Linked DNA regions of Homo sapiens. The protein of the gene in region 2 interacts with the protein of the main gene of each other region in a pairwise test. Each region holds a gene or a part of one and is shown on either strand. Other genes may lie near its edges. The genes, in order: THAP12, ZNF526 and ZNF524.

Region 1 (3,750 bases), on a different chromosome or scaffold from region 2:
GGTTTCGCCATGTTGGCCAGGCTGGTCTCGAACTCCTGATCTCAGGTGATCTGCCCGCCTTGGCCTCCCAAAGTGCTGGGATTACAGGTGTAAGCCACCGTGCTTGGCTGGCACCACATTCTTAGATATGACACCAAAATACATGCAGTAAAAAGAAAAATAGACTAATTGGACTTCATCAAAATTAAACTTTTGTGTATCAAAGAACATTACCAAGAAAGTGAAAAGAATGGAAGAAGGTACTTGCAAATAATACATTTGATCTGGGTCCAGTATCCAGAATATATAAAGAACTCTTACAATTCAGCAACAAAAAGACAACCCAATTTTAAAATAGGCAAAGGACTTCTTTCTTTAAACAGAAGATATAAATGGCTAAAAAGCACATGAAAAGATGCTGAGCATCACTCGTTATTAGAGAAGTTCAAATCAAAACCACAAGTGGCAGTTAGATGTAGAATTACTGTGTGTCCCAGCAATTCCATTCCTAGGCGTATATCCAAAGAATTGCAAACTGATATTCAAAAAAACCAAATGTACACACATTCATAGCAGCACTATTCGCAATAGTCAAAAGGTAGAAACAAGCCACGTTTATCAGTGCTTGAATGGATAAACAAAATGTATATCAATACAATGAAATATTAGCCATGAAAAGGAATGAAGTGCCAGTACATACTACAGTATGGGTGAACCTCAGAAACATTATGCTAAGTGAAAGAAGTCAGATACAAAAGCTTATATGTTGTATGATTCTATTATATTAAATATCCAGAATAAGTAAATCCATAGAGATAGAAAGCATATCAGTGGTTGCCTGGGGCTGGGCGAAAGGGAGAGTGGGGAGCAACTGATTAATGGTTACAAGGTTTCCTTTTGAGGTGATGAAAATGTTTTAGAATTAGGTAGTGGTGATGGTTGCAGAACATGATGAATGTGTTAATTGCCATTAGTTTTTTACTTTAAAATGGTTAGTTTTATGTTATGAGAATTTCACCTCAAAGAAAATAGATGTCTTGAAGAGAGAATAGGATATACAAGTCTGAAATTCAGAGACTTTCAAACCGGAAATTGTAAATATGGGTGTTCTCAGTTTATAGAGGGTATTTAAAACCGTGGTACGGGTTAAGGTTATCTAAGGAGTGAGCAAAGAACAGATCTGAGGATTGAGTCCTGGGGCATTCCCAGTGTTTTAAGTTCCGAGACATGGGAAAGAACTCGCTCAGTACAGTGAGGAGTAGCAGTTGGGAACAGAGGAGAGGAGCATCTTAGTCTGACTTGGCCTTGCCCCATTATGCGTTATCTTCCTTTTACCCAAATTTTAGCCCAAAGACATTCTTACAGGTTTATTTCACTTCCATAATGAGGGCACCCCTAGTCAGTTCTGGACCACAGGTCATTTGTATTAATATGTAGTGAATCCTGTTTTGACTACACTCCTTAAGGGGAGTATAGTCTATAGGGGTTTACAGTTTCAGATTTGAAAGAAGTGTTTAGATCTAGTGAAATCTCACTTGAAATACTGGAATTTTCTCAATAATAGTGACTTTTATCATTTTTAGGGTTATTATCCCTTTTGAGAATCTAGCATAAGGACTCTTACCTGAAAAAAAAAAAAAAACAAAAAAAACATAGACACAATTTAGCATTCGAAGACAAAGATGTTTATGGGCCTTTATAGGCCCTGTGCATTCCTGACAGATGGGCATCTTTGCCCTTGCTAAAACACCTCTAATGATAGTCCTCCCCTTTGTGAGAAGACACGTGATGATTCTGGACGCTTTGGCTGTTGTTTCTTCCTTGTATTGAGTGGACATCTGCCTCCTGTAATTGAGGCCTTGGAGGTCCTAGTTTTGTTCCCAGGATCACACGAAGTCTCTGCCCTTTTCAACGTTAGACTCCTTTGAATGCTTCAAGACCAAATCATGAATTTCTTTTTAAAAAGATGTTTATTGAGATGCAATTCACATATAATTCACCCATGTAAAGTGTACGATTTGGGGTATATACATTAATTTTTAAAATTTTGGTAAAATACAACAGAATTTGCTAATTTAACCTTTAAGTGTGCAATTCAGTGGCGTTAATTACATTCACAGTGTTGTGCAACCTTCTCCACTATTTTCAAAACTTTTTCATTTATCCCAAACAAAAACTGTAACCATTAGGCAATAACCTCCCATTCCCCTGCCCTTCCAGCCTTTGGTAACCTCGAATCCACTTTCGGTCTTTATAAATTTGCCTGTTCTAGATTCCTCATATTGGTGGAATCATACAATATTTCTCCTTTTATGTCTGGCTTGTTTAACTTAATATGTTCAAGGTCTTTTTATCCAAATCAAACCTCCTCGTACTACATGATTTTAAGTTCTACTGTATTTGATAGTTTCCATTTCACTGTGCCCAGTGTTATTTATAACAAAGAAGTAGTTTCCAGAGGTGTTATTGAATTAATAACAGTATTTTTAGGGTTATTAGTTCTAACCCACCCCCCCCCCACCTTTTCTTCTATAAACAGGTTGTAGGGAAGGTTGATAAAAGGTGACATTGCCAGTCTAGTCTTCAAATGCTAACATTGTTAACAAACAATAAAGATGAATATATTTAATGCTATTAAAACAGTACATTTCCCAGTCATCAGTTATAAATTCCATGCATGCTTTTAGAAACAGCTATTTAGAAATAATTTAAACTTCAAGAGTGTAATTAATAAAGTGTATGGTGTGGAATCACATACCATAATAGTTCTTATTGTTTTAGAAAACGTGGCATTAATATGCTTCTTTTTTAAAAAAGTGAAATAATCAACCCAGCTTAGGTCAGTGACACGGTTTAAGTAAAAAAAAAAAAAAAAAGCCTAAGTCTTGATTGCCCCAGGGTGGCTTGCCTAATGCCAAGGCTTGCCACTGTGAGGCAGCTCACAGTGGAGCTCTTCCTAAACCAGGAGATGGTACAGGTAGAGCTAATGAATTGCTCTGATTAGAGTGAGATGGGCGTTGAAGCTCTCTTCTTCCTCCTCAGGCAGCTAGTACTAACTCACCCAAGATGGGTGAGGGCTTCCAAGGTTCTTCTGGCAATTTAATGAAGGCTGATTGAGAGCTGGTGTGCTCTACTTTGTGAAATGTAAAACAGTGGTTTTCTGGGGACTCGTGAGGGTGCCTGTTTGGGCTGTTATAACAAAATACCTTAGACTAGGTGATTTTTAAACAACAGAAATTTATTTCTCATAGTTCTGGAAGCTGGGAAGTCCAAGATAAAGTCACCAGCAGATTTGGCATCTGGTGAGGGCTCACTCTTGGCTTCTTAGATGGTGCCTTCTTGTTGTGTTCTCACATGGCGGAAGGGGCAAATAAGGCTTCCCCGTCATGACCTAAGTCATCTCCCAGATGCCCCACCTCCCAACACCACTGCACTGGGGATTGTTTCAATATGAATTTTGAGGGGATGCAGACATTCAGACCATAGCAATCCCCAAGATCCTTTCAGGGAGTCCACAATGTCAGAACTATTTTCATAATAACACTGATATTATTTGCATTTTTCATATTTGGTCTCTCAGGAGTGGACAGTGGAATTTTTGGGTTGCTACATAACATGATGGCATCATTGCTTTGATAAATTTTGTGTTGTGTTTTCTAGAATTTTCTAAATATTATTCAGATCTGAGTGTTCAGTAGACATTTTCTCAGAAATAAACAAGCCTGCCACTTCAAGGAGAACAACTGATAATTTGAGCATTCAAGTTGAAAA
Region 2 (3,750 bases):
TGTGCATGCCTCCTGTGGGCAGAGCCTGTGCTGACTTGCTCCTGGGTCTCCAGCATCACCCAGTCTGGAGCTGAGGACCTGGGTACCTACAGATTTCCTTCCACACTGTCAGAATTGAGATGAAGGAAGCCCAGAGAAATCAAGTACCCTCCACCAGGCAGAGCAAAGTCCTGGGTGCCCAAAATCCAGGGAAGGCAAGGGCTGGGGGTACAAGCAGAGGATCTGAAGAGGTATATGAGAGTGGCCAGCACAGACCTGGCATAAGCTTGGTGCTCAGTGAAGGTTACCTGATGTTGCTGGGCACCAGGGTGATGCAGTGCAAAGGGCCTTGGCCAACCCACTTTGCAGCATAGCTGGGTGACCTGGTACAGATCACATCGCATTTCAGAGCTTCAGTTTCCCCTCAGGCAGAGAAAGATGACAAGAGAAGCCTGGAAGGGTTGTTCTGGGGAGTCAGTGGGTAAAAAGAGGCCAGGGTGGATCCTGGCACATGGTGGGTACCAGACCAGTTTGTCAGAGGAGGTCCTCTCTCCCCAGAGGTACCCACACTGGCTGTTGCAACCAAACCCTTTTGTTGTTGCTTTTCAGCTGCGTCACACGAAGGCCGTGTCCAACTGCAAGAGCCCGCCTGCTTCACTGGCCCCCAGTGCAGCCTGGCACAGCTGCAGGGTGTCCTCAAGCGCCAGTGGCTGGGATGTCTCAATGATGGCGATGGTCTCCCCCAGCTCTGTGCACATGATAGTCTGTTGAGGCTCTGGAGGTGGGGGTGGGGCAGGAGATGGTGATCTGGGAGGCTGTAGCGTCAAAGTCCGAGCTCGGGCATGGACCCGCTGATGCAGTCGCAAGCCCGCCATGGCGCGGAACCAGCGGCCACAAGTCCCGCAGTAGTAGGGACTCTTGTTGTAGAGACCAGTGATGGGGAGGCGGGGGGCGCGGGCAAAGGCGACTGGCCGCAAGTGCAACCGCCGGTGCTGCTGCAGGTTGGAGCTCTGTGTGAAGCGCTTGCCACAGTCCAGGCATTGGTAGGGACGTGCACCCGTATGGGTCAGCTGGTGGCGGCTGAGGTTGGCCAAAGAAGCAAAGGTCTTGCCACATGAGTGGCACTGGAAGGGCCTCTCACCCGTGTGTGTCCGCAGGTGGTTGCGCACGTGGATCAGCTTCTTGAAGCCCTTGCCACAAACCCCACAGCGGTGACGCCGTTCAGGGGGCCCGTGTACTGCACGCCGGTGCCGGGACAGCCGGGAAGCTGAGGCAAAGGACTTGGAGCACTGTGGGCAGGGCAGCTGGGCAGGTGGGGCAGGGGGTGGTGGTGGAGGGGTGGGCTCCGCTGGAGCTGGGGGAGCTGTTGCTCCTGTGGGAGGTGCCCCGCTTTTGCCGGCGTGAGTGCGCCGGTGGTAGAGGAACTTGGTCATGTTGCTGAACGTCTTGCCGCAACGACAGCGATGCAATGGGTTGGCAGTGTGGGCCCGCCGGTGAGCCACCAACGTGAGTTCTGTGCCAAAGCCGCGGCCACAGTCTACACAGAGGTAGCGGGCTTCCCCGCGATGCAGCCGCAAGTGCTGCTCAAGCGATGCTGCTTTCTTGAAGACCTTGGAGCAGGTTGTACACTCATGTGTGCCACCAACATGGGCCCGCCCATGAGCCTGCAGCCGGTTGGCGGAGCTGAAACTGCGCTGACACTGGCTGCAGTGGAAGGGGTGGGTGGCAGATGCCGGGCTGTGAGCCGTCCGCCGGTGTTGCCGGCGAGCCCCTGCTGAGGGCTGGTGCTGGGGACAGTCCCCGCAGCCCTGAGCCCAGCCAGCTGTGGACTCGTCACCTCCCACAGCATCATCACCGACCTCTGCCATGGCCTCCTCATCCTCCATCTCTTCATCATCTTCTTCATCCTCCTCATCGTCCTCTTCCTCCTCCTCCAACCCATTGCGCTCCTCTTTCTCTAGGGAGTCAAAGTGGGTGCCCTGATGCTCCAAGAACTCCTCAGGGGTGGCGCAGAGGGTAGAGCACTCAGGACACTCATAGGGCTCCATCTTGACTTCGGATGGGGGAGAAGGTGGAGGCAGTGGTGTTGGGGGAGGCAAAGGAGGTGGCACTGGTGGCTCAGCTACCGTAGCAGAAAGGTGCTGGGCCTTTCGATGAGCCACCCACAGCTCGGGCGAGGGGAACAGCTCCTGGCAGTCCCAGCACTGGTATTGGATCTGGTTTGCAGACTCTCGGAGGTGGGCATCCTGGTGGGCCAGGAGCTCCCCAGGGGAGAGGATGAGCTGGCTGCATTCACCACACTGGAAGGGCCCCTCAGCACCCGGCACCAGCTCCGGCTCCAGGCCAACATTCTGTGTGGTCAGTGCCTCCTCCTCTGAGACAGCAAGCATGTGCTGCTCCTGGTGTGAGAGGACTTCCTCCAGTGTGTTATAGAGGCTGCCACACTCAGAGCACATGAACTGGTGATGCTGGAAGAAGAGGGATGAGGCAAGGGCCTCCCCAGGTGTCATCTCAGTCACTTCTGTTGACATCTCCATCATCTCTGCCGACATAGGTGTTGACATCTCCACTGCCCCTGGTGACATCTGTGTTGGCATCTCGGCCACCTCAGCCACCACCTCTGCCATTGTGGGGAAGGCAGTGCCTGGAGAAAGAGGGGCAGGAGCCAGTGAGACAGCAGGAAACCAAGGGGAGGTGGAATTCTCTTGCACATCCCACTACTCACCAGCTATCGCTCAGGAAGTCTTAATCCACTGTTTCTGCTTCAGTCTTCCGTGATCCCATGTCTCTGAAGCCTACACACACCCCACGGCAGCCTGCAGGAGAGAAACACCACTCAGCCCAGCCTCTTTTTTTTTTTTTTTTTTCTTCTGAGACAGAGACTTGGTCTGTCACCCAAGCTGGAGTGCAGTGGCACAATCTTGGCTCACTGCAACCTCTCGCTCCTGGGTTCAAGCTATTCTCGTGCCTCAGCCTCCTGAGTGGCCGGGACTACAGGGGTGTGCCACCATGCCTGGCTAATTTTTGTATATATATATATATATATATATATATATTTTAGTAGAGACAAGGTTTCACCATGTTGGCCAGGCTGGTCTTGAACTCCTGACCTCAGGTGATCCACCCGCCTTGGCCTCCCAAAGTGCTGGGATTACAGATGTGAGCCACCACCCCGGCCAACAGCCCGGCCTCTTTTTTTTTTTTTTTTTTTTTTTGAGATGGACTCTTGCTCTGTTGCCAGGCTAGAGTACAGTGGCGCAATCTCGGCTCACTACAACCTCCACCTCCTAGGTTCAAGTGATTCTCCTGTCTCAGCCTCCCGAGTAGCTGGGACTACAAGTGTGCGCCACCATGCCCAGCTAATTTTTGTATTTTTTTGTTGTTATTGTTGAGATGGAGGCTCGCTCTGTCGCCCAGGCTGGAGTGCAGTGGTGCAATCTCTGCTCACTGCAAGCTCTGCCTCCCAGGTTCAGGCCATTCTCCTGGCTCAGCCTCCCGAGTAGCTGGGACTACAGGCGCCTGCAACCACGCCCGGCTAATTTTTTGTATTTTTAGTAGAGACAGGGTTTCACCGTGTTAGCCAGGACAATCTCAATCTCCTGACCTCGTGATCTGCCCGCCTGGGCGTCCCAAAGTGCTGGGATTACAGGCATGAGCCACCACGCCCGGCCAATTTTTGTATTTTTAGTAGAGATGGGGTTTCACCATGTTGGCCAAGATGGTCTCGATCTCTTGCCCTCGTGATCCGCCTGCCTCGGCCTCCCAAAGTGC
Region 3 (3,750 bases), about 13 Mb from region 2:
GGTCTAGAGCACCCCTGTGTCCCCCAACACCTCGCCCATCCCTCTCTCCAAGTCTCTTGACAAAGGTGTGTTTGACATTCATCCAGATACACAATTTTAGCTATGCTGGTGGGTAAAACAGTGAGATGATCTTGTATCAGCTGATAAACAGGCACTTCCCTGAGCTCCACCAGACATCCCTATGCCTCCCTAACTCTCCTTCTGGATCTAGAAGTTCAAGATCAACATGAGCAACACCCCTCCCCACCTCCCCACAAAAAAAAACCTTCCAGAGAGGATAGAGTCCAACTGAGAGTGCAGACCAGTATTGTGATCCTTGAAACGGAGAGCCCATCAAACTCCAGAGCCATAGAGGCCTCACGAATGCTCTCATCCCTCCCTGCTGACTGGCAGAAGTGGGGAAGGGGTTCCAGAGTGGAAAAAAGGGACTGGTCCCAGGTGATATTTGACCCTGATTCCTGGATGAGGAAACATATCTGCGATGTTAAGAGCCTGGGCCCTGGAGTCAAGACATCATTCGTTCAAATCTTTACTCTCTGCGTGGCCTTGGGCAAGGTGTTCGCTTCTCTAAGCCTTAATCAAGACTTTTGCAAAATGGGACACATAGTTCTACGTACTTGCCCAGACATGCCATGAGCATAATACCCACAAAGTGTTCATACACAGAAGCTTTCAGGACACATTAGCCATTGTTATCAGGAGCAGCTAAGCCTCACATCAACCCTCTGAATAGGGCATATCTGTCCCATTTTGCAGATGGGGAAACTGAGGCACAGGAAAGCCAAGTCAGTTGCCTAAGTTCCTCTGCCAGTAAATGGCAGGGCCAAAACTGGAAACAGGTCTTGTGACCCGAATGTCCCAGAGAATGGAGAACAAATAAACCCAAGGAGGAAAGGGGACATTACGAGGGCTCAGTCCTGGGTTTGAATTCAGCTCTGCCTATAACTAGCAATTGACTTTGCCAGTTTCCTCCTCTGAAAAGTGAATAAACCAGGGTTGTCAGGAGAATCGAATAAGACAGTGGGCTTTAAAATGCCCCTCGAACACTGCCTGGTGCACAGTAAGCACTCAATAAACTTCACCAACGCCACCACCATCTTCCCGGCGCCCACTCAGATACTGGGAGCATGGGATTGGGGTGTAACGGAGGGGAAGGGGAGGCACAGGTGCAGCTGGAAGCAGGTGCTGCAGGTGCCCCCCTGCACCCCCCCCTCCCCTTTAACAGCCACATAGACTGCTGTCCAGAGAGGAGCAACCACCTTTCCATACGGTTCGCTCCCACGGGGTAGCCTAGTCTAGGAGTCTGGTCTTTGGAACGGTGGAAAGGGGGAGACTGGTCCCCCGACCCTCCCCGTCCCCTCGCCCCGGTACTGACGCGCCCATCGGCCCCCGAGCTGCGAAGCCCAAGCGCGGGGCGGGCCCTGCGGGGGCGACGGCCAATGAGCGGCGCCGGGTAAGCGGGCGGCGGGGGCTGCCAGGAAGGGGGTCTGCGCGCGCGCGCCCGGACGGCTTCGCGGGGCGCGAGCGCGGGAGCAGGAACAGGTGTTGGAGGCGCGCTCCGGGAGCGCGCGGCCCGGCCTCCCCTACCCCCACACCCCCCCTCCCGCCTGCGCCCCCCGCCTCTCGGGTACCTCATTTGCATGTCGCCGGGGCTCGCGAGTGTGCGCGCGCGCGGGGGCAACGGGGCCGGCGCGTGGGAAGGGGAGGGGGTGAGGGGGCCCTGCCCCTCGGCGGCGGCGAGGCGGGGGCGGCGGCGCGCGGTGCCGGCCCCGCCCCTCGGAGAAGCGCCGGGCCCCTCCCTTCCTGCCCTTCCCGCCCGCCTGCGCGCCCGCGGGAAACAAAGGGGACTCGCTGGGTCCTAACGACCGGTCGCGGCCACGCCCGGAAGCCGCGCCTGCGCACCGGCGGCCCTGGTGTGTCCCCAGTGGGAAATAACCCAGCACCACATCCCCAACCACCTCGAAACGCCTTTCCTCTCACAAAGCCCACAGTCGGGTGACCCAAAGACAGATACCGAATGATGAGGAGCGGGAAAATGGCTGCCCAGTGCCCGTAATTAACATGGCACCGGACAGGCTTCGAAGCCCATGGAGTGCTAAGTGGATAAGATGGTGCCGGTCTTTTCCAGCTCTGTATTGCAGTTGGCGCACTTCGCTTTCTTTTTTTTTCCCTAGTCCAACTGTACATCCTAATCGGAGGAGTCCGAGGCTGTGAAAAAGAAATAGTATCTGCTCTCATTTACGTTAGCATCGCCTAGTGTCGCCACGGAGAAGCCCCCTCGCTCTCAGCTCCTTGCCCTTAGTCTGTATGGCGCCGTGGGTGTCCCTAAGCCCCGCCCCTTCCCGCTGCCCTCACCCAAGATGGCGCGGGCCTGGCTTCTTCAACCTCCAGGGCTGGGAAAGGAAAGGGAAAGAGGGAGAAGGGCGGGGATGAGGAAGGGGAGCCAAGAGGGCGGGAGAAAGGGGGAGTACGGCGGGGGAAGGGAGCTGAGGCGGAAGTCGAGGGGCCCCCCGGGTGGAAGTGACGCTGCCCCCGCTGCCCAAAATGTCGGCGCCCAGAGGGAGGTGTAAGTAATTAAAGAGGAAAGCCGACGGACTTCCCCGGCCTCCCGGGGCCGCCCCGGGTCTCCAGGACCAACGCTCCGTACGAGCGAGGTGGACTCGCCTGGCCCCGGGGCCTGCCCGACCTGCCCCCCAACCGGGCGCCCAGGGCTGCACCTTTTAGGGGCAGGGGGAGGGGCACAAAAGGCCGGCTCTCGGGGCCTGGGGCCTGGAGCAGACTGGGCAAGTGGGGGGGCCCGCTCCTCAGGCTGCGGGGTGGAGGAGGAGGCGGGGCCTAGTGGCTGCTGGGGCGGAGCAAGGGCTGGGAGGAGCCTGAGTTGGGCGGAGCTTAGAGTGGAAGTGGGAGGGGCGTGGAGGAGGGAGAGTCTGGATAGAAAATGGGAGGGTCTTAGGCAAAGAGGTGGGGTTTGATAAAGGGGCGTGGCTCAGAAGGAATGGTGGGTAGGCCCTGGATTGAGGGGTGGAAGGAAACTCATTGAGGCTGGTTGGGTAAAGGGAGCCCAGGAAGCAGGAGGGAGGAGTTTAGAGTAGAAGGGATGGAGTTTGTCTGGGGTGTGGCTTAGAGAAGTAGGTAGGCCTAGTGAGGGGGGTGGAGTTTAAGGGTGTAATTTGGAGGGGTTTAATGCAACTATCAGGTCTTTATAATGAATGTGGAAAGGACTTGCAGGGGATGGGAATAGACTTCGTAGAGAAGGCCTGAGAAGGTGACGGGAGTCCAGTGGAGAGTCTTAGAAAGGATGTGGCTTCTTTAAAGGAAAAATTGGGTGGAGTTTTGGAAGTGGGTCTTAGTGGACCCGAGAGGGGCTTAGATAAGTCAAATAACTTAGCAATCATGGTAGGACTTAAGGAGGAATCCAGGAGGAACTTACGGGATAATAGTCATCCAAACAGCTTACTTGTTGCGTCTTTGCTGTGCACCAGCTTAAGTGGGCACGTAGCATTTATTGCCACAATTTTACTTAATTCTCGCCACCACTCCATGAGGTAGGTACTACTATTCCCATTTTACAGATGAAGAATTTTTATTATCTGATGTTACAGGAGTAATTCTGGTCTCCCTGCAAGGATGACTCCAGTGTGCTTAGCCCCAAATCTTTGCCCTCCCATTCGCTAAGTGGTCATCCTGGAAGAGGAGTGGGAGGAGCTTAGAGGGGAGTGGGAGGGCCTTTTGGAAGGAAAAGGGCTTGGC

The links.
Region 1: the proteins of ZNF526 (region 2) and THAP12 interact in binary tests that used the Homo sapiens proteins (3 or more experiments, as listed by UniProt).
Region 3: the proteins of ZNF526 (region 2) and ZNF524 interact in binary tests that used the Homo sapiens proteins (3 or more experiments, as listed by UniProt).

The regions. Positions count from the first base shown.
Region 1 is NC_000011.10:76,374,496-76,378,245, reverse strand, and holds part of THAP12 (52 kDa repressor of the inhibitor of the protein kinase), read left to right. Parts: intron 1-3,750. UniProt on the Homo sapiens protein: Upstream regulator of interferon-induced serine/threonine protein kinase R (PKR). May block the PKR-inhibitory function of DNAJC3, resulting in restoration of kinase activity and suppression of cell growth.
Region 2 is NC_000019.10:42,223,260-42,227,009, reverse strand, and holds part of ZNF526 (zinc finger protein 526), read right to left. Parts: intron 2,796-3,750; 5' UTR 2,705-2,795; intron 2,624-2,704; 5' UTR 2,607-2,623; coding exon 594-2,606; 3' UTR 1-593. UniProt on the Homo sapiens protein: May be involved in transcriptional regulation.
Region 3 is NC_000019.10:55,598,290-55,602,039, reverse strand, and holds the start of ZNF524 (zinc finger protein 524), read right to left. Parts: upstream 1,753-3,750; 5' UTR 1,632-1,752; intron 1-1,631.